Homo sapiens: one gene and its partners. The protein of the gene in region 1 interacts with the protein of each later gene in a pairwise test. Each region holds a gene or a part of one and is shown on either strand. Other genes may lie near its edges. The genes, in order: CCK, NUP43, RGR, MAPDA, CITED1, HELLS and BRWD1.

What was found.
Region 2: the proteins of CCK (region 1) and NUP43 interact in binary tests that used the Homo sapiens proteins (3 or more experiments, as listed by UniProt).
Region 3: the proteins of CCK (region 1) and RGR interact in binary tests that used the Homo sapiens proteins (3 or more experiments, as listed by UniProt).
Region 4: the proteins of CCK (region 1) and MAPDA interact in binary tests that used the Homo sapiens proteins (3 or more experiments, as listed by UniProt).
Region 5: the proteins of CCK (region 1) and CITED1 interact in binary tests that used the Homo sapiens proteins (3 or more experiments, as listed by UniProt).
Region 6: the proteins of CCK (region 1) and HELLS interact in binary tests that used the Homo sapiens proteins (3 or more experiments, as listed by UniProt).
Region 7: the proteins of CCK (region 1) and BRWD1 interact in binary tests that used the Homo sapiens proteins (3 or more experiments, as listed by UniProt).

Annotation. Positions count from the first base shown.
Region 1 is NC_000003.12:42,260,256-42,263,185, forward strand, and holds part of CCK (cholecystokinin preproprotein), read right to left. Parts: intron 1-2,930. UniProt on the Homo sapiens protein: This peptide hormone induces gall bladder contraction and the release of pancreatic enzymes in the gut. Its function in the brain is not clear.
Region 2 is NC_000006.12:149,736,530-149,740,029, forward strand, and holds part of NUP43 (nucleoporin Nup43), read right to left. Parts: intron 2,250-3,500; coding exon 2,114-2,249; intron 94-2,113; coding exon 1-93. UniProt on the Homo sapiens protein: Component of the Nup107-160 subcomplex of the nuclear pore complex (NPC). The Nup107-160 subcomplex is required for the assembly of a functional NPC.
Region 3 is NC_000010.11:84,255,053-84,257,756, forward strand, and holds part of RGR (RPE-retinal G protein-coupled receptor), read left to right. Parts: intron 1-2,704. UniProt on the Homo sapiens protein: Receptor for all-trans- and 11-cis-retinal. Binds preferentially to the former and may catalyze the isomerization of the chromophore by a retinochrome-like mechanism.
Region 4 is NC_000015.10:43,340,672-43,344,171, reverse strand, and holds part of MAPDA (N6-Methyl-AMP deaminase), read right to left. Parts: intron 1,179-3,500; coding exon 1,097-1,178; intron 1-1,096. UniProt on the Homo sapiens protein: Catalyzes the hydrolysis of the free cytosolic methylated adenosine nucleotide N(6)-methyl-AMP (N6-mAMP) to produce inositol monophosphate (IMP) and methylamine.
Region 5 is NC_000023.11:72,303,115-72,307,359, reverse strand, and holds the start of CITED1 (cbp/p300-interacting transactivator 1), read left to right. Parts: upstream 1-1,445; 5' UTR 1,446-1,535; intron 1,536-1,937; exon of another isoform or gene 1,938-2,045; coding exon of another isoform or gene 2,046-2,058; intron 2,059-4,245. UniProt on the Homo sapiens protein: Transcriptional coactivator of the p300/CBP-mediated transcription complex. Enhances SMAD-mediated transcription by strengthening the functional link between the DNA-binding SMAD transcription factors and the p300/CBP transcription coactivator complex.
Region 6 is NC_000010.11:94,548,788-94,552,287, reverse strand, and holds part of HELLS (lymphoid-specific helicase), read right to left. Parts: intron 1-3,500. UniProt on the Homo sapiens protein: Plays an essential role in normal development and survival. Involved in regulation of the expansion or survival of lymphoid cells. Required for de novo or maintenance DNA methylation. May control silencing of the imprinted CDKN1C gene through DNA methylation.
Region 7 is NC_000021.9:39,198,633-39,202,132, forward strand, and holds part of BRWD1 (bromodomain and WD repeat-containing protein 1), read right to left. Parts: intron 1,755-3,500; coding exon 1,587-1,754; intron 1,031-1,586; coding exon 131-1,030; intron 1-130. UniProt on the Homo sapiens protein: May be a transcriptional activator. May be involved in chromatin remodeling. Plays a role in the regulation of cell morphology and cytoskeletal organization. Required in the control of cell shape.

The DNA of each region.
Region 1 (2,930 bases):
TTCAGGTGAAATATTACCCTTGAATTCAGGAAAACCTATAGACCCAGTTACCTGTACACAGTCACATGGAAACATGACCCATCCTTCTGCCTGCTGTGATGATGAGTGCCCACTCTAAGGCCTGGGCACAACCCAAATTTCCATCTAATGGAAGCAAGGTGACAGCTTCAATACGAGCAAGCAGCCTCAGTTAACGGTGGGGGCACCATGTTCAGTCATGGAAGCTGCATTTATCACACACCCTGACTTCCCCGTTCCACGTACAGTTCTGTCCTCATGTCATGTGTATTTACCAGGGTCCTCACTCACTTTCCCAGTGCTGACATAGAGTAGGGGCTTACATCTGATGTATGGAATTGATCAAAGCCTGATTCCTATGGGCCACAAGAGATGGACGGGCCTCCCTCTGAATCACACAAAGAATTGGAAGGGGCTTATTGGAAAGCTAGCCTCGGGACTGTCTGCATGTCACTCAGCTAGTGGGCTGCTGAATCACCTTATTCCTGGAGAAAGACTTTGGTGCTGAGAAAACAGTGACTTTCTTAGCTCTTGCTAAAACTGAAGGGTTTAGCTCTTTTAAACTTTAAAATGTGGAATAGGCAGTACAGCTAGGAAGCTGAATGGCTTCCAGGCCCTCCTGGGGGGAGCAGGACTAGATAGAGTCTCAGCCCTGCTGTTGCGTAGATATGCAACTGCATGTAGGTTACTCAGGCTTTTAGAGCCCCAGCTTCCACACTGGCAAAATGGGTATAATAATATTCACTGTGCAGGGCTGTTGTACTGAGAAAGACAATATAGATGTAGCATTGAAGCTTTGCTGGGCATGGGGGAGGCGCACACTAAATGCCTCTAGATATCTTTACCCACTGCCCTCCAATAGAATTGTTTCTTCTTGGGCCATTGAAAGTGCTGCAGATATTTCCTAATGATAAACTCTTAAGTACTGCTCAAAGAATGCATTGTCTTGTTTAGAACTTTTAAGAATAATATATACTATAGTGGAGCAAAAATCTGATATGATCTCAAAATATGTAAAATATTCAAAATATGTAAAATATTCTATATACTGCACATATAGAAACTGTGCAGTATCTATATGTGTAAGTATTTAGTCCTAGTTCATGTTTGTCACATAGAAGAGTTTGCTTGTTTTTTAGCTAGAGTTGATCCTAGGTGTTGGCATCTAAATTTCCAAGTGATTGCTATTCCCTCCTGGGTTTGTTTGGCACAATTGGCTGAAGGCAAAGGGAGAGGGGGGCTGAGAAGAGGGACTAGAAAGAACTTTCCAGCTAAGATTTATGCTATAAGAGCCATTGTCTAGTATTGGTTCTAGGAAATAATTTGGTAATGAGCTTTTTTTTTTTTCTTTTTTTTCCCTAGAGCAATTTTGGAACCAAGACTCAATTCGGCACATTTCAGGCCTTTTTGCAGATATCCTCAGCCTACATAGAAGAAAAACCAGGGTCTTTCCTAAATTGGAGGAGGGGAGTCCAGGTCCACAGTTAAATGAAAAGCCTAGGATATTTCAGACTGGTCTGGCTGAAATTCAGCCTGTATCTGGGGACAGATACTAAATTATTTTCAGGCAGAGAATCAGCAGGAACTCAAAAGCTTTCAGACTTTCTCTCTCCATCTGAGAAGTATTTCTATCTTTTTCAATTTAATTAGCAGGAAAGCAAAACACAAGGTGGTGGGTGGGGCAATTTCCCAAAGACAGGAAGAAATACAACAAATCACTGATTTGTTCTTTCCTTCTGAAGCCTCTGGGTCAGAGTTCCAGTCTTCCCTTCATGTGAACCCACAGAAGAACTCTGCAGAGCCAAAACTCTTCATCTTATCCCTCTCTGGTCAAGCCAGGGGTTAAGGTTCAAATCCAGGCCCTGGAACACCAGTTGGGTAAGAGAGCTTCATGGAAAAGGCAACACACCTACCACATCCCTTCCAGCAGTGTTTGCTAAGTTCTTTTTTTTTTTTTTTTTTTTTTTAGACAGTTTCACTCTTGTTGCTCAGGCCAGAGTGCAATGGCACAATCTCGGCTCACTGCAACCTCCACCTCCCGAGTTCAAGCTACTCTCCTGCTTCAGCCTCCCGTGTAGCTGGGATTACAAGCATGTGCCACCATGCCCAGCTAATTTTGTATTTTTAGTAGAGATGGGGTTTCACCATGTTGGTCAGGCTGGTCTCGAACTCCTGACCTCATGTGATCCACCTGCCTCAGCCCCCCAAAGTGCTGGGATTACAGGTGTGAGCCACTGCTCCTGGCCTGCTGAATTCTTTTAATGTCCAGCTGTGTTTGTACTGTTCAGCACACTGCTCCACAGCCGGTGTTCATCATTAGTGTCACTGGGGATAAAGTTGGCAGAAAAAAGCTGCCCCAATCCAAAGCATGATTCCTATGGGTCACAAGAGATGAATGGGCCTCCCTCTGAATCACACAAAGAATTGGAAGGAGCTTAGGGGAAAGCTAGCCTCAGGTCAGAATTGCCTGCATGCCACTCGGCTAGTGAGCTGCTGAATCACCTTATTCCTGGAGAAAGACTTTGATGCTGAGAAAACTGACTTGCTCAGCTCTTGCTACAACTGTGACCATCTCTGCAACAGTAAAGTAAAAACAAATACCTCTCTTGTTGGGTAATAATTTGTAAGTCATTGCAAGGAGAACACAAAACTGCTGCTGATTCTTTCCTTCTGTTACATACTTTGGTGGAAATGGACACATTGTCACTGCTTTTTTAAACTGTTGTAGCCAGATCTCAGGCATTCTCAGCATTGACCCCTTCCTGCTAGAGGATTTCCAAGGGTTGGTATCTGGGTGGCTCCAAGGTCCTTTGCGTTTTCAGTAGAGGGTATTCACTGTATCTAGGAACCCTTTCCTAGGCTTCAATAATTATCTTTTAATGGCTTGGTAAAATGGTGTTGAACTTAATCAG
Region 2 (3,500 bases), on another chromosome or scaffold:
ATACTCAACATTCCATCTTGGCCACCAGTAGCTACAACATGCTGTTGGTTGGGATGTCTATCAACACAGTGGAGTGGCACTCGGTCACCAGTCCTTTTGTGGGAGATAACAATGACGTCAAAATCAAATAAAGTATAATTTATCTTTGTGTAACACAGGAAACACGTTTTTTGTTTGTTTTGAGACAAGGCCTCACTTACCCAGGCTGGAATGCAGCGCTGCAATCATTGCTTACTGTAGGCTCAAACTCCCTGGGCTCAGGTATCCTCCCACCTCAGCCTCCTGAGTTGCTGGGAGTACATGTGTGTACCATCATGCCTGGTTAACTTTTTGTATTTTTGTAGAGATGGGGTTTCTCCATGTTGCCCAGGTTGGTCTCAAACTCCCAGGCTCCAGTGATCTAGCCACCCTGGCCTTCCAAAGTGCTGGGATGACTGGTAACCGTGCCCAGCCTGTTTTTTTTTGTTTATTTTTTAAGAGACCAGGCTCAGTGGCTCACACCTGTAATCCCAGCACTTTGGGAGGCCAAGGCAGGTGGATGACTTGAGGTTCAAGACCAACCAGGCCAAAATGGCGAAACCCCATCTCTACTAAAAATACAAAAACTAGCCAGGCATGGTGGCACATGCCTGTAGTTCCAGCTACTTGGGAGGCTGAGGCATGAGAATCGCCTGAACCCAGTAGGCAGAAGTTGCAGTGAGCCAAGATCATGCCACTGCACTCCAGCCTGGGTGACAGAGTAAGACTCTGTCTCAAAGAAAAAAAAAAAAAAGAGAGACAGGGTCTTGTCTTGTCACCCAGGCTACAGTGCAATGGCCTATCTACAGCTTGCTGCAAGCTGGGCTCAAAAGAGCCTTTTGCCTCAGCCTCCCAAGTAGCTAGGACTACAGGCACATGCTACCGTGCCAGGCTATTTTAAGAAATTTTGGTAGAGATGGGGTCTCACTGTGTTGCCCTAGCTGGTCTCAAACTTCTCACCGCAGATAATCCTTCCAAAATGTTGGGATTACAGGCATGAGTCACCATGCTCAGCCAAGAAACATGTTTTATATGGTAACTAAGTGTCAACTTAGTGGCTGGAGCTACTGGCTGAATCTTTTTTTTATTTGAGACAGAGTTTTGTTCTTGTTGCCCAGGCTGGAGTGCAATGGCACGATCTTAGCTCACTGCAAACTCTGCCTCCCAGGTTCAAGTGATTCTCCTGCAAACTCTGCCTCCCAGGTTCAAGTGATTCTCCTGCAAACTCTGGCTCCCAGGTTCAAGTGATTCTCCTGCCTCAGCCTCCTGAGTAGCGGGGTCTATAGGCACGTGCCACCATGCCTGGCTAGTTTTTGTATTTTTAGTAGAGACGGGGTTTCACTGTGTTGGCCAGGCTGGTATTGAACTCCTGACCTCAAGTGATCTGCCTGCCTCGGCCTCCCAAAGTGCTGGGATTACAAGCATGAGCAACCACGCCCAGCCTGGCTGAATCTTAATGATACCAAAAAAAATGAACTAAATTAGATATATTTCTAAATAGTACAATTTTGAAATAATTCAAGGCCACAATTATTCATTTTCACTTCAATTTGGAGACATGGAATGAAAGACAATCCGATGGTAAGATGTACAAATCACATTTCCACTTGTTAAATTATTTAAAAACTCATACATCAATTATATACTAAATATTATTTATCATCTTATTTAATGCTTAGTTTATGTAACTATTTTTTCAGTGTGACACATTCTATTTTCTTACGAGAGAACGTTGTACACCTACAAAGGGGGATTTCTGCTCAGAAAAAATATTTGGAATTATATTTTTCCCCCAATCATTACATCTGGAGTATATTTTATCCATTAAACAATCATTGAAAGAGCAGAAATAAGTTCTCCATGAAATAATACAAACTTCAAAGAGTAAAGGCTCTGAATCACTATAACAAATAATTACTAAATGAAGCATAGTAGTACCAACCCCGTCAAGTTATGCTTGCTCTACCAAATTTTAATCAGGGATCTCCCTCTTAAAATGCAATTAAAATTCAATATGGCTTAAAGCCAGTAGCTATAAACAACCTAACACATTAATTTGTGGATTACATTACTGAAATTACAAATCAACACTTACAGTGACAATATCTGAGAAGGCTCATTTCCTTGTTGTCTGAAATCCCATATTTTCAACTGTCCAATTGAATTTACAGTAAGAATCTCAGGAGTTCGAAGAAAGGTTACAGCATGGAGTGTACTACTATCTGCATTGTCTAAAAATTTAAAAAATGGTAGTATGTGTTAATGAGTCCCCTTTTTTTCCCAAGAAAATCTTAAATCACACTCCTTTCATGGATTGATATATTACAATTTCCAGTAACTTATAATTTAAATTTCTATAGAAAAATGCATGGTTAATGTATATGTTTAAATGGATTCTCTTTGGATGGGAAAAACATTTACTCACAGGACATCTGAACTGTTTTCTGTTTCTTTTTTTTTTTTTTGCTCGTTGCCCAGGCTGGACTGCAATGGCGCGATCTCGGCTCACCGCAATCTCCACCTCTCGGATTCAAGCTATTCTCCTGCCTCAGCCTCCCAAATAGCTGGGATTAGAAATGTGCCACCACACCCAGCTAATTTTGTATGTTTAGTAGAGACTGGGTTTCTCCATGTTGGTCAGGCTGGTCTCGAACTCCCGACCTCAGGTGATCCACCAGCCTCGGCCTCCCAAAATGCTGGGATTACAGGCTTGAGCCACCACGCCTGGCCTACTGTTTTCTTTTTCTTTTTGTTTTTTGAGATGGATCTCGCTCTGTCACCCAGGCTAGAGGGCAGTGGCGTACTCTGGGCTCACTACAACCTCCGCCTCCCAGGTTCAAGCGATTCTCTTGCCTCGGCCTCTCTAGTACCTGGGATTACAGGTACATGCCACCATGCCTGGCTAATTTTTGTATTTTTAGTAGAGACGGAGTTTCACCATGTTGGCCAGGCTGGTCTCGAACTCCTGAGCTCAGGTGATCCGCCTCACTCAGCCTCCCAAAGTGCTAGAATTACAGGCATGACCCACCAGGCCCAGCCTTGAACTGTTTTCTAAATGGAAGGCTGAGTTTTCATACATTTCTTTTTAACTCTTAAGATTGTTACCCTGCATTTCTGAGAGAGTTGTTCAAGCTCCTCTAAACCCAATCTTACTTCCCACTAGTCCCTGACCTAGAACTTCCATTCTATTGAGCCAAACTCCAGTGCTTCCTACAGAGCTCATTCTAACCTTGTATTATTCTGCAGACTCATCCCAAATCTACTCATTTTCACCCTCATCAACTCTCGCCCTCTCCATGAAGTCACTCCTTATTGTCATAATGGTCCTTTTTGTTGATTTCCTAGTGTTTAGAACTTATGCCTCATAATTTAACATATACTTTATGGACTTTAGTTTGTGCCACTCCTCTACACTGCCACCAGGCAATGGTCATTAATTAACAAATAAGTAATGTCGCCCAGTGCAGTGGGTCATGTCTGTA
Region 3 (2,704 bases), on another chromosome or scaffold:
TCTACTCATTCCGCCCTTTAACCTCCAATTCCCTCTGCTATTCTCCTGCCTCAAGAGCAGCAGTAATTTCTCGTTTCCTCTCAGGGACACCAGGGAATATGAACAATGTGACAGACAGCAACCAGGGGTTTTCTGCGTTTTCAGTGATCAAGAGAAAATCCAGCTTGTGCACAGCATAGGATGTTAGAACTGGAAACCACCCTCCCTTTGCTCAGATCGCCAAGGCCTGGGGAGCAAGGATCAGGACTGCTCAGATTCACCCAGACCCCGTAACTCTGGGGACCAGGGCTCCCTACTGGACACATCCGTGCTGTTCCACTTAACTCTTGCCAAGGATGTGAGGTTTGGCACAAAGTTACAGGCTTTTTAAATGCTACTTTTAAACCGCTTTGAGATGTTTAATTTAATCACAGTCACAGGGTGGTGCCCAAAAGATAAAAATCAACCTATAAGCACATTTGTCCAAGAAATACAATACTTCAAAATAAGCCCTCCTGGCCATTTTTTAGTTTCTGAATTACTATTCCCTTGCCACGGTTTTATTTTAACTTGGTCACCTGGATGACCTCTAGCAAAGGAGTCGTAACAAGCAACAAAGATTAGAACAAATTCAGATCTTAATATTATTTCTTTGCAACCACTCTATGAGGAAAGAGGTTTTCTTTCTTTTTTTTTTTTTTTTTTTTTTTTAGGCCGAGTTTCACTCTTGTTGCCCAGGCTGGAGCGCAATGGTGTGATGTCGGCTCACCGCAACCTCCGCCTCTGGGGTTCAAGCGATTCTCCTGCCTCAGCTTCCCGAGTACCTGGGATTATAGGCATGTGCCACCACACCCACCTAATTTTGTATTTTTGGTAGAGACGGGGTTTCTCCATGTTGGCCAGGCTGGTTTCGAACTCCTGATCTCAGGTGATCCGCCCGCCTCCGCCTCCTAAATTGTTGGGATATAGGCGTGAGCTGCCGTGTCCAGCCTTTTTTTTTTTTCTTTGTTTCTTTTTTTTTTCCTTTCTTTTTTTTTTTTTTTTTTTTTTTTTTTTTGAGACAAGGTCTTACTCTGTTGCCCAGGCTGGAGTGCAGTGGCAATCTCGGCTCACTGCAACCTCCGCCTCTCGGGTTCAAGCGATTCTCCTGCCTCAGCGTCCCTAGTAGCTGGGATTATAGGCACCTGCCACCACGCCTGGCTAATTTTTGTATCTTTTGTATCTGTTGGCCAGGCTGGTCTTGAACTCCTGACCTCAGGTGATCCACCCACTTCAGCCTCCCAAAGTGCTGGGATTACAGGTTTGAGCTATCGTGCCGGCCAGAAGGAGGTTTTCTTATCCCTGTGTCGCGGACTAAAAAATTGAGGCTGAGATGGGGGTTAACTAAGCAACTCACCAAAAACCACACACCTGGATTCAAACCTAGGTCTGGGACTCCACCACCCATGTGGTCAATCACAGTGCATGAAAGAAACTCTTTTTTTTAAGTCACTTCATCTGCCACTTTATTTATTTATTGTAAATTGGAAAAGGACTGTGCAAATCTATTTTAGCTGGAGCCCCGATGCTCCCCCGAGGTCAGAAGGAGAGAAAGGGCTTTCCTGGGACCAGAATCCAGTCCCCTGGCTCCCAGCTGGCTGCTGGCATAGGCGCCGCTTCTAGGCTGTCCTCCGCGATGCCGGTCCCAAGCCCTGTCTGGAGGTGCAAAGTTCACATTTACTGGAGGCTCAGGCAGCCGGGAGACAAGGCTGCCACCATGATCTCCTCATTTTTCTGCGTTGACTTTAAACCATTGTCTCTGGTGGGCATCGCCAAGGTCACACGCAGGGGTCCAGGGACCTCATCCCAAGCTGAGCGGCTTCCCGAGACCGCGTAGCCTCCCCAGGGGATTCCACGTCTTAGGGCCTCGGCTCCCGGGAGGGCCCCGAGGTGCTGAGCTCCGTTGTTCGTGGGTTTTTTTTTCCCCAAATAAGGGACAGTTAAGAGGAAAAAAAAAGTCTCTTGGTCAACATATTTTAATAATCCAAGATGGAAGAAAATATGCCCTCTTCCAGCTTAATCACCCTCTTTGTTAAAGAAAGTCAGGTCAGGGAGAAAACAGGCAAGAACTTGAGCGTCAGAATTGCACGTCCGCGTGTTTGTGCGGGGCTGGAACTTGGCAGCTCCCGCTGAAATTAAAGCGCGAGTCTTGCGCCCCCTCATGGCCCCAGGCGGCACCCCAGCATCTCCCGCTCTCTGGACAAGCCCCTCCCCCGCTGATTGTATTTCACATTGGGAGCCCAGACAGGGTGGTCTCGCCGGGTGGCTGTAGCTGTGGATGACGAGTTGGTTCTAGGACTGAGGCCTGAGGGCAGCTCAGCCTGGGGCCCCTTGAGCACGCAGTCACAGAGCCCAGGATTCCTCTTAAAGAGCACAGACGCAGGCCAGGCACAGTGGCTCATGCTTGTAATCCCAGCACGTTGGGAGGCCGAGGCAGGAGAATCCCTTGAACCCAGGAGTTCGAGACCAGCCTAGGAAACATAGTGAGACCCCTTCTGTATTTGACAAACAAAGAGTACAGACCCAGGAGGAAGCGCTCATTATCCACCCAGTCTCGGCCTCCAGCCACGTTGGGTATTGTCAGGCCATTTTACAGACACAGCAGCTGAGGTCAGGCAAGTTTAAATAAAAGGCTTAAGGTCACACAGTCTTAAACAACAGAGAGGCCCATCTGGTCCCAAGTTCC
Region 4 (3,500 bases), on another chromosome or scaffold:
GTGTCAGAGGGAAAAACTTTTTTATAAATCTTGACATATATTGCTCTTTAGAGAGGTTTTTCCCCCCTTACCTGTGTACCAGTGCAGGATTTAAAGAGGTTTTATTAATTACATATGCTTACCAGCAGTGTGTAACTTACAAACACTGGCTATTACTTTTTTTAGCCTACTGAAACAGTATTGTAATATATGATTAATGAATTAAGTAGTTTTCTCTGTATTTCTATATGTCTACCAGCTCTTTGTATGTCTTCTTCTCTGCATTCTATTGTCTTCTGCTTGGTTTTTTATTGGGGTTATTACTTAAGCTTAATTTTTAGAGTCTTATAGCCTGAAACTATACAGCTAGCTTTTTTTCTTTCTTCATTTAGGGCTTTACTGAGCCCATACTATGTACCTACTTTGTGGTAAGTACTAAAGATGTAGTGGTGAATCAAAAAACAAGGTCCTTGGCTTCACTACACTTACACCCTAGTGGGTGGGCATATATACAAACTAACACAAGATAATTCCTAATCTTGTTACAAATAATGCCATAAAGGAAATAGATGGGTGACTAGAGGATTAGTAGGGCACTTTAGACAGAGTGGTAAAGGAAGGCCCCTCTGAGGAAGTAACAGCCAATTGAGATCTGAATAATGAGAAGAAGCCAGCCAGCTGGGCAGGAATCTGGTAGAAATGTGTTCTGGGGAATACTAAACAAAGGTGCTGAAGGGGAACAGTCTTTTTTGCTTATTTTAGGAACAGACAGCAGGCCCACGTGTAAGGGAGGAGGAGTGGTCTAGATGAGCTGCTGAAGTAACAGAGGCAGCCAGATCATGTGGGACCTTGTAGGCCACAGTAAGAAGTTCATTTTAGCTTAATGGCAAAGGAACACCATACTTTACTCATGTAAAAATACTCAGAATTTTATTGCCTTATGAATAAACTCAGAATTGTGTTCTCACTTTAAACAACAGGGTCCTTGATTTTATTTTTCTATTGTATAAATCAATGAATGATTAATTTTAAAAAATCCATTACACCCATGATCAAAACAGTAAAAATTCACATTCTGGTTTTGTAAATGTTAACTACTAAGGTACAATCTTCTTACCTAACATCAATGTCCAAGTTTTCTTGTTTGGACTGTTTTATACCTTCAAGTATAGATTCCACATAAGTCTTTTTAGTCATTCCTAGAAAGGACACATAGAAAATACATGTAAAGAGATCATCAACTATTTCATCCCTCACCTTCAGCAATCCTATATGAACAATTACATTTTCACTTTATGCTATGACAAGGGCATAGTTAAAGATGAGTGAAAACATGGCCCTTATGGGTATATTTTAGTAAATGCAAATTATATTTTAATAAAATTAGGGGGAAATGAAGTGTTAGAGAAATGAAATGAAAAAAAATAAAGGCTTTTTTTTTTTTTGAGACAGGGTCTGGCTGTCACCCAGGCTGGAGTGCAGTGGCATGATCTTGCCTCACTGCAACCTTTGTCTCCTGAGCTCAAGCCATCCTGCCACCTCAGCCTCCTGAGTAGCTGAGACTACAGGAAGGTACCACCACGCCCAGCTAGTTTTTGGATATTTAGTAGAGACGGGGTTTTGCTATGTTGCCCAAGCTGGTCTCAAACTCCTGGGCTGAAAGTGACACGCCCGCCTTGGCCTCCCAAAGTGCTGGGATTACAGGTATGAGCCACTACACTTGTCCTTTTTTTTTTTTTTTTTTTTAAAAGGGATATTTTCTCTCCTCCTAGTCCAGAAAAAAAGTCCTAACTTGGATTCCTTTCCCCTCAATCCTGCTCGGGCTTAGTGTTTCTCATCCAGGGAACCAGGCATGTTCTTCCAAGTCTGAGTGCTCTGCTCTCTGAGGGGATCTGCAAGAGCACTCTCCAGAGCAACCTCCTGTAAAATACCTTTTTTTCTTTTTCTTTAGGCTACATTGGGTAAAATAAAATACCCTTTTACCCGGATTATAAAATGCTTATGTTTGGTGGAAAGTCTCTGGTAAAATATATAAAATTATAAATAAAAATAAAAATAGGGTGTGGTGGCTCATGCCTGTAATCCCATCAGTTTCGGAGGCCGAGGCGGGCCGATCACCTGAGGTCAGGAGTTCGAGACCACCCTGGCCAACATGGTGAAATCCTGTCTCTACTAAAAATATGAAAATGAGCCAAGTGTGGTGGCATGTGCCTATAATCCCTGCTACTCGGGAGGCTGAGGCAGGAGAATCACTTGAACCTTGGAGGCGGAGGTTGCAGTGGGCCAAGATCCCACCACTGCACTCCAGTCTGGGTGACGAGCAAGACTCCGTCTCAAAAAAAATAAATAAATAAAAATAACCCCACCACCCAGAGATAACTACTGTTTTCCAAGTACACATATACACATTTATTTTTATGTATTATTTCAAGAGACCTTTTTTAAGGTCTCTCTCTGTTGCTCAGGCTGGAGGGCAGTGGCACGATCATGGTTCACTGCAGCCCTTGGAGCCCATAGAGGTGGGGGGGGTCTTATGATGCTGCCCAGGCTGGTCTCGAACTTCTGGCGTCAAGTGATCCTCCTGCCTCAGCCTCCCAAAGCGCTGGAATTACAGGCATGAGCCACTGCACTCTGCCCATATACACATTTTTAAATAGAGAAGATACTACTAGGTATATATGTACCCAGTTCAGTCATTTAACATGAGTCCGAGTATTTCCCCATGTCATTAAAGTGTCTTCACCAGTATTTTTAATGGTTGCCTAATATTCCATTAGCCTTTATTTAACCATTCCTCTACTGTTGCATATTTAGGTTAATATCCTTCTTTTAAAACTCCATTGAAAGAGCCCTATGAGTTGGCTCTTCTCTCCTTCCCTTTCACTACTCTCACCAGTACAACGTGGAACTGATTCTATGGTTCAAAAATGCAAGATGAGAGCCTTCTCCTTATCTTATGTAAACACTTATACTTTACAATAAGTTTCAAAAATTTTACCCCCAAATGATTACTGAGCTACATATATCAGGAAACAAGATGACCTAGGTCTCTTTGGGTCATAAACAAGGTGCTAAGAGGGCCCCAATGTCTCCTGATGCTGCTCTTATAGAAGGAGGATCTCAGGAAATTCCTCCAGATCATAGCCAGATCTCATCTCTATCCAGAGAGGTTTTACCACATCACAGCTTGCTCCTGGCCTAAGAAACTATTCCCTGAGAAGCGAATGAATAACCTACATTTTAGTAACTACCATAAAACATGATTCTGCATCCACTCAATGGCATTGTCTCACAAGTGCCCATGATGCAGGAAGCAAGAATCAGCCTCTGCTTGTAACAATGCAAACATAAGGAGCAGGTATCCTTTTCTCAGAGTGAAAACAACTAAACAAGGAAGAACAAAAGAAACTGCTGCAGGCCTTTGTTTCCTTCCTTAAACAGATAATGCCTGACTGGAATTTTACTACTTTTTACTTAAGAATAACTCACTCATTAATAATGTACATCAGGATGGGCACGGT
Region 5 (4,245 bases), on another chromosome or scaffold:
CCCATAGCCCGGACTCGCCAGCCCCACCCCGGGAGCCTTGGCCGGTCCACAGGGCTGCCGGACTCGCGTGGCCGCGTGGACTCCGTTCCCCAGCCGGCCCTTTGCTTTCACACGATCCGCGGTGACTGCACCAGCTCGAGCGCCTTTAAAGGGCCACAGACGCCAGCCGCTGCTATAAAAATGTGCCCGGCGGCAAAGCTGCAGAAGGGGCACCGCTGAGCTGCCGAGAGGAAGCTCGCTCTGCCCGGCTGCCCTCTTGTAGTCCGCCGGCGAGGGGCAGTTCTCGGTGAGGAGGAAGAGAGCAGCGGACGGCACAGCACCCGCGCGGGCCCTCCGTGAGTATCCAGTTCAGATTTTGCCACCAACTCGCCCACGAGCCAGGACATGTGCTAATAATGCCCTAAGCCGGTTATAAAGACGTGGAAATTGAGGGGAGAAAAAAAAAGGGAAAAAAAGGGTCTGTCCTTCCTGGGATTCCTAGCCGAGGCCAGTCTGCTGCCGTGTGCGTGTGCGTCAGGGCTCTCCGGGCGGCAATGGGGGCTTGAGAGCCGGGTCCCCAGCGCCGGGAAGGGAGCGCGGTGGCCGCCACCGCCACCGCCCCGGAGTCCGGCGCCGAAGCTGCGGGCGGGCGGGCGGGCACCAGCTCGGTCAGGGGCTGCTTGGCGCGGCACTGTGCGGTGCAGCGGCGGCGCGGCGCGGTGCGGGCTTTTCCCAGGCGCCCCGGGGTCGGGTGGCCAACGGCGCGGCCGCGGGCGCTGAGCGCGACCGGTTCGCGGTAGCGGTGGCGGCGGCGTGCGTGCCAGGGGCTGGGGGCTCCGCCGCCTCTCTTGCGGCTCACCGAGCTCCGCGCTTCCCTCTCTCCAGGGCAGGCGGCTTCTCAGAGGTAAGCCGGGCCGCCGGGCTGGGCGCCGGGCTGGGCGGCGGGGCCGAGGACTCCCGTGGAGCGGGTATGGGGAGTGGGCGGCCGCCAGGCGGGCCGGAGGGTTCTGGGGAGACTTGCTTTCTGTTGGAAAGCTGCTCTGCTGGGGGCGAGGGGCCGCCCGCCCGCCCGCCCGCCAGCGCTCGGGTTCGCTTGCCAGCGCGCCCCCCTGCCGGCCAGCGGGGCCGGGTGCCCGCTTCTCCCGGGGAGACGGCAGCACCTTTTCTCCCTGCGCCCGCGCTTTCTCCAGCTTGGCTTCCACCGACTTTGCTAATCTCCCGGACCGCATCTGGACGCTCTGGCTCCGGAGCTGCACAAAGCTCAGATTTACTTCGGGGAATTGAGGCAAGAGGGGGCTTTTCGGGCCGAGTTCAGCGGAATTGCGGGATGGAAGTTAGCGAATTTGGGCAACTTGCCTCTACTGCCCAGTCGACCTCAGCCCTCCCCTCCCCCGACACACGCCCACACACACACACCCACGCGCACACCCCTCTCCCTATAAACGCGGGCTGGCGAGCCGCGCGCCGAGTCCCTGCTTCGCAGAGCACCGGACTTGGAGTCAGAGAGACCTGGCTGCGAATCCCGGCTCCGCCACTTTCTAGCGCTGTGACCTTGGGCAAGTTACCGCACCTCTCCGAGCCTCTCTCACTCTTCTCCTAGCGGGGTTTTAGCACTGACCGCAGGCGGCTTGGCTAGGGGGTAGGCTCAGCCTGCTGCCGCGTCGGATGCTCAGCGGGCGCTCAGTAAGTGTTGATCAGGCGCGAGAGTGGCAGCAGCCGGCGCCGGAGTGCGGACTCGCCGCGGAGGCCGACACCCCGTGCCCCTTCCTGCCTGTCCATCCTGTCTCTAAGATCAGTTCCTGATACAGCACTTGCGGGAACGGACGCTCAGGGCCCCGGTGGCCTGGGTGCACGCGCCCGCCGTGCAAGGGATGCTCCCGGCCGCCCCCGGTTCCGCGGCTCCATCTGGGATGCGGCGAGGAGGGCAGCCGAGCTGTCCGCAAACAACGGGCCTTTAGTTTTCAGGTGGCGAAACTGACTGGTCTGGTTAGAGCGCGTCCAAGCCAAGCCGCAGTGCTGTTTGGATTTTTAAATTTCTCCTTCTGAGTGAGAAAATAGCAATCGAGATGGAACCATCCGGTTGGTGCCATTTTAACTTTTGGTCCCCCAACAGGTTAAAGATGAGGCCCCCACCTGCCTCTCCCTTCTCTTTTCCCTCTCCCCTTCCCACCCCTGTCTAGGCGGGAGGGGGCTGCTCGCCCAAGGGAAGGCCTGAAGCGAAGAGCGGGCAGCGGGACTGGGAACTGGTGGCCGGGGGGCCGCCAGGCATCAGCCGGCGAGAAGGCACTTGTTGCTCTAGGTTTCCCAGCCGCCTGTCGCAGCCGTTTCGCAGTGGTCAGCTCGCGGCTTGGAGAGCGGGCTGGGACGTTTCCGCGTTGCCAAGTTTTGCCCACGAACGGGCTAGAGGGTGGTGGAGGAGGGCAGAAAGCCGGGGAAGCAGAGCCAGGGATGCCGATGGAAATGCGATTGCTTCTTCAGACGCATTCAACAACACTTACTGAGCGCCTATTGAGCGCAGACCCAGGCTGGGGTCAGGGTGGGTGGTGGGTCAGTAATGGAAGGCAGAAGATCTGAATGGACACAGGGCCTCTTCTGGGGGAGCTCCCAGATTGAAGAGGGAGGCGCGGTAAAATGGTCTTCCCCCACGAACTGATATCAGAATAGAGAGAGTTTTTTTGCTCGTTCTCTCTTTTGATTTTTCTAATGTTTCTCTTTTGGTTTTGCTGTTGTTGCTGCTGCTCCTGTTGTTTTTTCTTCGTTTTGTACATTCGGGTACCAAGCGGCAAAAAGGAGAGGGAAGGCTGGATAGGAACAGGAAAAGATGGACAGGGCCCCCAGACATTTTTCTTAGGACAGGAAAATTGTCTGATACTGATTGTGCTAGGGCTCTTGAAGACGACATGTGTTAGACTTCTTGTCTGGTGATCACTTGCTTTTGAAATATTTTTCTACGGTTGCCTCAGAGAAGGAGCAGGGCTTCAATCAAGCAATGATGCGGGACCCAACAGCTGATATTTTTTCCTCATGTTTTTAAAAAAATGTTTACCCCTTTCTCTATTTTTTCCCTCCCCTACCCCCATCCACCCAAGTAAGCAATGCAAAGATGATACAGAGAGGTAGTAAGTGGCCACTTTCTAGAAGTGTCTGAGCAGATTCTTAATGACCGCTGCGGAGTGGAGAGTGTCACGGAGAATTCTAGCCTCCTTGGAAAGATTAGAGACTCTTTTTAAGGTCCTCAAGATTCTTTGGACCAAGAGGTATTTATAAATATGAAATTCTACATCTCTAATTGATCATGAAAGCTAGAATATATGGGGCTTTTTTTTTTTAAAGAGATAGGGTCCCGCTATGTTGCCCAGCCTGGTATCAAACTCCAGGGCTCAGGTGATCCTCCCACCTCAGCTTCCTGAGTAGCTGAGACTACAGGAGGGTGCTACTGTGCCTAGCTATGGGACATTTTTTTCTTCTTTGTAAACAGGCCTCCAGGAAAATAAGTTGAGATTTTCAGAGGTTTGTTTATTTTCTGGTTTGGAGGTATTCTTTTGCCTTCATTCCCTTATCCTTTGGCACTTGAGCCAGGAAATCACTTCTTTGGAAGCCTTTTGAATCCAGCTAGGTATGATGACTTAGCCAGTGGTCAGGTGAGGCATGTGGCCATAGGGGTGCTAGATTCTGCTCCCAGAACCGCTGCTACCTGACTAAAAAGGCATTGAATCTCTGTGCCTCACTTGTCACTATAGATGGGAATGGCTGGACTCAGGTTTCTGGGGTAGGCATCCTAGGAAAGCCCAATGCTGGGGCTGTCTTGGAGGGGGCTTGAGACATGGAGGAAAGTGACACATTCCTAGCTTCTCTGGCTCCAGCTGCCTCAGAGCCCCCAGACCACCCTAATCAGCCTGGCTTCTCACAGGCATGCCCAAGGTCATGCTTTGGAGCTCCATGACATTTGCGCTAGAGACTTGTTATTTCCCTGTGCTGCAGCCTCTAGCTTTCTAGGTCTTCCTTGCCCTGACTTCTTCTCACATTCTCCCAGTCCCAGTGGAGGCCCCAACTCTCCAGCCTGGATGCTAGTAGCCCATTGAGACAATATGTTGCTTACTCAGGGACATTCCTGTCCTCTGAACCAGGAACAGTGCCACCCTCACCCCCACACATACACCTTGGGACTGTGAAGTCACTTGCATGAGGAAGCAGTATGTCCCATCTTGGTGATATGGGTAGGTGGCTGCCTGGGCAGTACCTGGCCGAATCAAGCACCTTTCCTGC
Region 6 (3,500 bases), on another chromosome or scaffold:
AATTTTATAGATTAGATAGTAGATATGTTTCATTTTATACAAACTCTTGACTTAAAAAGTCTAGTGGCAGATTTTTTAGTATTTTGTTTTCTCAACTAAACCAATTCCTCTACTTTTCAACAAGGATTAGTAAAAACACAAAGTCAACCAATAAAATCTAACTGCCCCTTTCCCCAGTAATTGGTGGTTTCAACTTAAGAGGAAAGTAATTGAGCATTGTTTACAGCGTGTTTGAAATGGGGGATATGAGGCTGGGCGCGGTGGCTCACGCCTGTAATCCCAGCACTTTGGGAGGCTGAGGCGGGCGGATCCCGAGGTCAGGAGATTGAGACTGTCCTGGCTAACACGGTGAAACCCTGTCTCTACTAAAAATACAAAAAATTAGCCGCGTGTGGTTGCAGGCGCCTGTAGTCCCAGCTACTTGGGAGGCTGAGGCAGGAGAATGGCGTGAACCCGGAAGGCAGAGCTTGCAGTGAGCCGAGATCGCGCCACTGCACTTCAGCCTGGGCAACAGAGCGAGACTCCATCTCAAAAAAAAAAAAGAAAAGAAATGGGGGTATGAATTCATTTTTATACTCTAAATAATGCCCTAGCACTTGGGTAGTTTTGCTGCTCCAGCTTATCAATATCTCTAAGATATCATTTTATATTGCCTTACATTTTCCTAGCTATTACATCATCACTATAGCTTTCTTTCAAAATATATTTCTTTTTCTTTTTTGAGATGGAGTCTCACTCTGTTGCCCAGGCTGGAGTGCAGTGGCACAATCCTGGCTCACCTCTGCCTCCGCCTCCCGGGTTCAAGCAATTACCTGCCTCAGCCTCCCCAGTATAGCTGGGACTAGAGGCACCTGCCACCACACCCCGCTAATTTTTGTATTTTTAGTAGAGACGGGCTTTCACCATCTTGGCCAGGCTGCTCTTGAACTGACCTCGTGGTCCACCTGCCTCAGCCTCCCAAAGTGCTGGGATTATAGGTGTGAGCCACCGTACCCGGCATCAAAATATATTTCTATTATAAAATCAGTGACTACAGTAAGATTCTAAGAATGGACCTAACAAAAGTAATGCATACTCATTACAGAAAAACTAAATGTCAAAAAATATATAAATCACCCATAATCCCACCTACACAGATAATTCTTAATATCTTGAACTCAATTTTCAGTTCTTTTAGGACAGAATTTCTTTTACTATTACCAGTATACTACTGTGGTTACAATACGCAACTACTGAGGTGAATATGAAAACAGGGAGATGAAAATTACTTACACAATATATGGATTCTTAAATTTTTAACTTTTAAAATTTAAGTTCAGTTAAAATAACGTGGGTTTAACTTAGATATAGTTGATACCTTAAATCCTGTACAGAATTAGCACTTTTTCTTTTTTCTGAGACAGGGTCTCGCTCTATCACCCAGGCTGGAGTGCAGTGGTGAGATCTCGGCTCAATGCAACCTGCGCCTCCCAGGCTCAAGCGATAATCCTCCTGCCTCACCCTCTTGAGTAGCTAGGACTATAGGCGCGTGCCACCATGCCGGCTAGTTTTTTAATTTTTTGTAGAGATGGGGTTTCACCCTGTTACCCAGGCTGGTCTTAACCCCTGGGCTCAAGCGATCTGCCCCGCCTCAGCCTCCCAAAGTGCTGGGATTACAGGCATGAGCCACCGCGCCTGGCCAGCACATATTTTTAAAACAACTAAATACAGCCAGGCATGGTGGCTCACGCCTGTAATCCTGGCACTTTGGGAGGTCGAGGAAGGCAGATCACGATGTCAGGAGTTTGAGACCAGGCCGGCCAATATGTTGAAACCCCGTCTTTACTAAAAATACAAAAAAAATTAGCTGGGCGTGGTGGCACGCGCCTGTAGTCCTAGCTACTTGGGAGGCTGAGGCAGAAGAATCGCTTAAACCCGGCAGGTGAAGGTCGCAGTGAGCCAAGATCACGCCACTGCACTCCAGCCTGGGTGACAGAGGGAGACTCCGTCTCAAAACAAACAAACAAGCAAAAAAAACCTAAATACTTGCCTGGTGCTCCTGGAAAAATTTTTCCTAAAAAAAAAAATCAGCTGGGCATGGTGGCTAATGCCTGTAATCCCAGCACTTTAGGAGGTCAAGACGGGCGGATCACCTGAGGTTGGGAGTTCGAGACCAGCCTGACCAACATGGAGAAACCCCATCTCTACTAAAAATACAAAATTAGCCAGGCTTGGCGGCACATGCCTGTAATCCCAACTACTCAGGAGGCTGAGGCAGGAGAATTGCTTGAACCCCGGAGGCAGAGGTTGCAGTGAGCCGAGACTGCGCCATTGCACTCTAGCCTGGGCAACAAGAGTGAAACTCTGTCTCAAAAAAATAAAAATAAAAATAAAAATCACTAAAGCTTTAAGATGCCATCATGGAAAAAAATAATATACAATTAATATTAAAATAATACCATGTAAGTGGTTAATCCTTAAACCTGGTCTTCTGTATTTCAAATCTTCCTATCACTGTTTTTTCTTTATTTATCAATTTCATGATTATATTACGGTAAATTGCAACTCCATCTATTAAAAGCACTGAGTGCCTGGCAGGAAACAACTCTGGGTAACTACAGTACAGAGTATGCCAATGGACACCGAGGGCAGAAATTCCTCATTATCTACCCCATTATCTCTCCCAACACCAATCCCAGATTTTTTATTGGGGGGTGGGAGGAGTTCTATTTTAGCCTACACATATCATGATCCTTTTACCTCTCCAAGAAATCTCCTGACTCCAACTATTCCCCCTCCTCCACTTCACAGGCACTATCAGTACTCAAATCTCCTAGACTAACAATGACTTCTTTTAAAGGGAAATACATGTGAAAAGTCAAAGAAAATAACTGTAGCCAATGAATGTCAAAGTCATTTTCTAGGTTCCTCACAAACCTTAGGATTTCCTAAAGCCAAATGCTTCTCATTAAGGAACTTAAGCTAGCTCTTCCTCTGTTAAGTACTTCTAAATACATGCCCATACAGACTGTATTCTCCCAAAAGAAAAGGAATCTCTACCTGTGCATAGTTAATTGTTTGGCCTCCAAAGACATGTTTATTAATCTCAAGTAGGTAGAGACTCTGAAAACTTTTCTTAGAATTTTCTAGTGTCATCTAGGCAATCACTTTTTATGAGGGTCCAGTGCAAAAAATAATCAAAAACTTTCCTTATCTGTACATAACAAGACAATGTAATACGAAACCACAACACTAATGTTTTAGCAAATTACACACTTATATTAAGATTGAAAACGGCTACATACTTTTTTTTTTGAGACGGAATCTTGCTCTGTCACCCAGGCTGGAGTGCAGTGATGCCATCTCGGCTCACTGCAACCTCTGCCTCCTGGGTTCAAGCAATTCTCCTGCCTCAGCCTCCTGAGTAGTTGGGACTGCAGGTATGCGCCACCACATCTGGCTAATTTTTATATTTTTAGTAGAGACGGGGTTTCACCATGTTGGCCAAACTGGTCTCGAAC
Region 7 (3,500 bases), on another chromosome or scaffold:
TGGGAGGGAGAGAAACAGCAAAGAGAAAAAAGTTTCAAGGGAAACTTTTTCGGGGGGAAAAAACCAATGTGTGTAAGAGAAAAGGATGGTGAGAGTCAATCAGTGAACAAAGATAAATGTTTTGAATTACCTTTCATAAAATTGTTTGGTTTTTCTATTTTGTCATCATCTGAATCTAAATCAGTTTCACATCCATGATCTGAGGAACACTGGGACATAGCAATAGGGTCACAGTTCAGATTTCCTGAAATTGGGTTCATTTCCATTTTATGACATTTCCCATCTTCTCTATCTTGCTCTTCAGATTCAGAGTCTTCTGAGTCACTCAGAATCTTGGTTTTTTTAAAGAAACTCGCATTCTTGTGAAATGTATTGTATTTCCTACCACCAGATCTTCCTGGTTCAGAATCTGCTTCCTCTGAGATGCTCTCTGCCTTAAGTTTCTGCACAGACGTTGATGGGCCAGCAGTTCTGTTACATGCATGATCTGAATCATGACTTTTAGAGTCTTCCTCAGAAGACTCTATTTTAAGAAATTTTGTCTTTGAAGGTGCTGGAGTATGGGACTTGTAACCATTAGCATGCCAATTTTTCCGGGCTACCCGCAAATCACTTTCTGACTCTGAGTCTCTGTTTTCAGATTCATCAACATTGCTCTGGGCAGTGTGAGAACTGGACACTGGTAATAGTTGATTTTCATCTTTTAGCTCCTCTTCTTCAATTTCTGACTTTAAGCTCTGTTCATCTTCAGAATTATGTAATAACTTTTTTCTAGCTACAGCAGAAGCATTGCGGTGAGGCAGCTTCCGACCAGAACAGACACTTTCAGAGCTAGAATTCTCTTCTACATCACTCATTAGCTTTATTTTATTGGCAGCCACAGCAGCACACTTCCTTAAGACTTTTCGGTTATTTCCAGCTCTGGCTTTTAGAATTTCACCAGTCTCCAATGAATTGTTATCAGAATCACTTAAATAGACTCTCTTTCGAGTGGCTTTTCTGCCACATCCATTTGCTAATGAAACGGGACCTAGAAATAAGGTTAACAATAAGATTAAAAAGATTTTCCTTATTTCAACATTTTTAAATGACTATTATTTTAATGATTTTCTTCACTTTTTTGGGGGGCGGGGAGGAGACGGAGTTTCGCTCTTGTTGCCCAGGCTGGAGTGCAATGGTGCAATTTTGGCTCACTGCAACCTCTGCCTCCTGGGTGCAAGCGATTCTCCTACCTCAGCCTCCTGAGTAGCTGGGATTACAAGCACCAGTCACCATGCCTGGCTAATTTTTTGTATTTTTAGTAGAGACAAGGCTTCGCCATGGTGGCCAGGCTGGTCTCGAAACTCCTGACCTCAGGTGATCCGCCCACCTCAGCCTCCCAAAGTGCTGGGATTATAGGCGTGAGCCACCGCACCCAGCCTTTTCTTCACTTTTTAATGCCAAAATTCATTTCCTTCCTAAATCTAAGGAACCTAAAGGACATTAACTTAATCTTACGTAGATGCATTAAATCGAGAATCTATTCAATTTATAACTTTTGGATTCTTTTGATATACATTCCATAAAAGTACTACTGAGTCTCTTACCAGTTTTTCTTTGAGCAGCTCTAGTTCTGGTTACCCTGAGATTGCTGCTTCTGGATAGCCCACTGCGTGAGGAGGATTCACGAGCTCTGGAACTCTCTTTGCTTTCCTCAGAACTACTGGAAGCTGACGATGACAAAGAGGTAGCTAAAGAATCTTCCACTTCACTTTCTAGGAAAAATAAAGTGTAAATAGTTACATATATTCTCCTGTCTTTACACACATAAGCAAGCAGTTCATAACATTACTCTGAACATTACATAACATTACTACAAAAGCAGATTCCTAAAATGCTTAGAATATATTTTTTAAAAACCATTCCCAAAAAAAGCTGATGAAATTTGGAGTATTAAAAGGTACATAATCAGCATTCCAAATAGTTTTTAATTATATTTCTAAAAATAACAGATTAATCCTAGTGTAGATTTACAAAATATAGTTTATGTATTTTATAAACAGACTTCCAATTAAAAATTTAATTAGCTGCAGGCCGGGCACGGTGACTCACTCCAGTAATCCTAGCATTTTGGGAGGCTGAGGTGGGTGGATCACTTGAGGCCAGGAGTTCAAAACTAGCCTGGCCAAATAGTGAAACCCCATCTCTACTGAAAATACAAAATTAGCCAGGCGTGGTGGCAGGACCCTGAAATCCCAGCTACTGGGGAGGCTGAGGCAGAAGAATCACTTGAACCCAGGAGGGGAAGGTAGCAGTGAGCCAAGATCGTGCCACTGCACTCCAGCCTGGGCGACAGAAAGAGACTCTGTCTCAAAAATAAATTAGTTAAATTAATTGGATCCATGTCTACTCCCTTCTGTGATATCAGATAGGTATTTCATATAAAAAAGACACCATCATTTCAATTCCAGCATTTCAGAAGACATAGTTTGCATGTCTCACCATCCTTTTACCCATTCCTAACAGCACAGTAAGGTCATTTCTTACATAACAGCTACACGAGAGAAAGAGTGTGAGAGGGAAGAAAAGAAAACTGGCTGTGATACCAAAATACTAGACACCAAATTGTGGTTCATCCTTTGAACTTGTTCTACTGTTTGCCCACCTCAGCTACTCCTGTCAACTCTACCATCCATCACCTTGACTCCCTGTTTTTCCAGGCTCTTCCCCTCCCTCTGCACATCACTGCCAAACTTAATCTTCCTGAAACATAATGTGACTCTGTCACTCAATAAGGAACCCAGTTCAGTAATCCAAACTCTTCTGCAAGGCTCGAAAGTTGCTAAACTTTGACTGTACTCTATCTGTTTGATCCCATTGTTTGTAACATTCCCCAAAACGGTCTTTTCATTTGCACAAAATGCATCCTTCTTTCCTTCAGTGCATTTTCTCATAGTTGCTACTAGGCTGTAATGTGTCCACTTATCACTAGTGCCATTTTCAATTACTCCAGCATACTCTGATTGGACATTCCATGCTATGAATGTATCCCTTAAAACACTGTACAGTTCTAATGTGATACACATGAACTTGCTTGTCTTTCTCCACGTTTTATCACAGTCCACTTCCATTCCAAACTTTTATCTGTATGTATATTTTTCAATGCTGTCAATACTATTTATTGAAATACTAGGTAAAAGATATGTATAAATGATTCAATTATAACAGTAAATAGTATGCTATTGTCATAATTCAGCAAAACCACTCAGAGCAGTACAGAAATAGATACACACCACAGCCTCATTTGTACAATGTTAACAAAGTTAGCATCAGCTACAGTTATGCTACCAGATGGCAACAACATGAACAGTTTAGAATTTACTACGTCATCAGCTTTGAACTTCATTGATTCTTAGTACTTCTTAATTTTTAAATTAAAAAGATACAAAAACTTCAAATGCTGCACACCAAGTGTGAAGAATCTATGTATCATGTAATTGACAATTCAATATAAATGTACC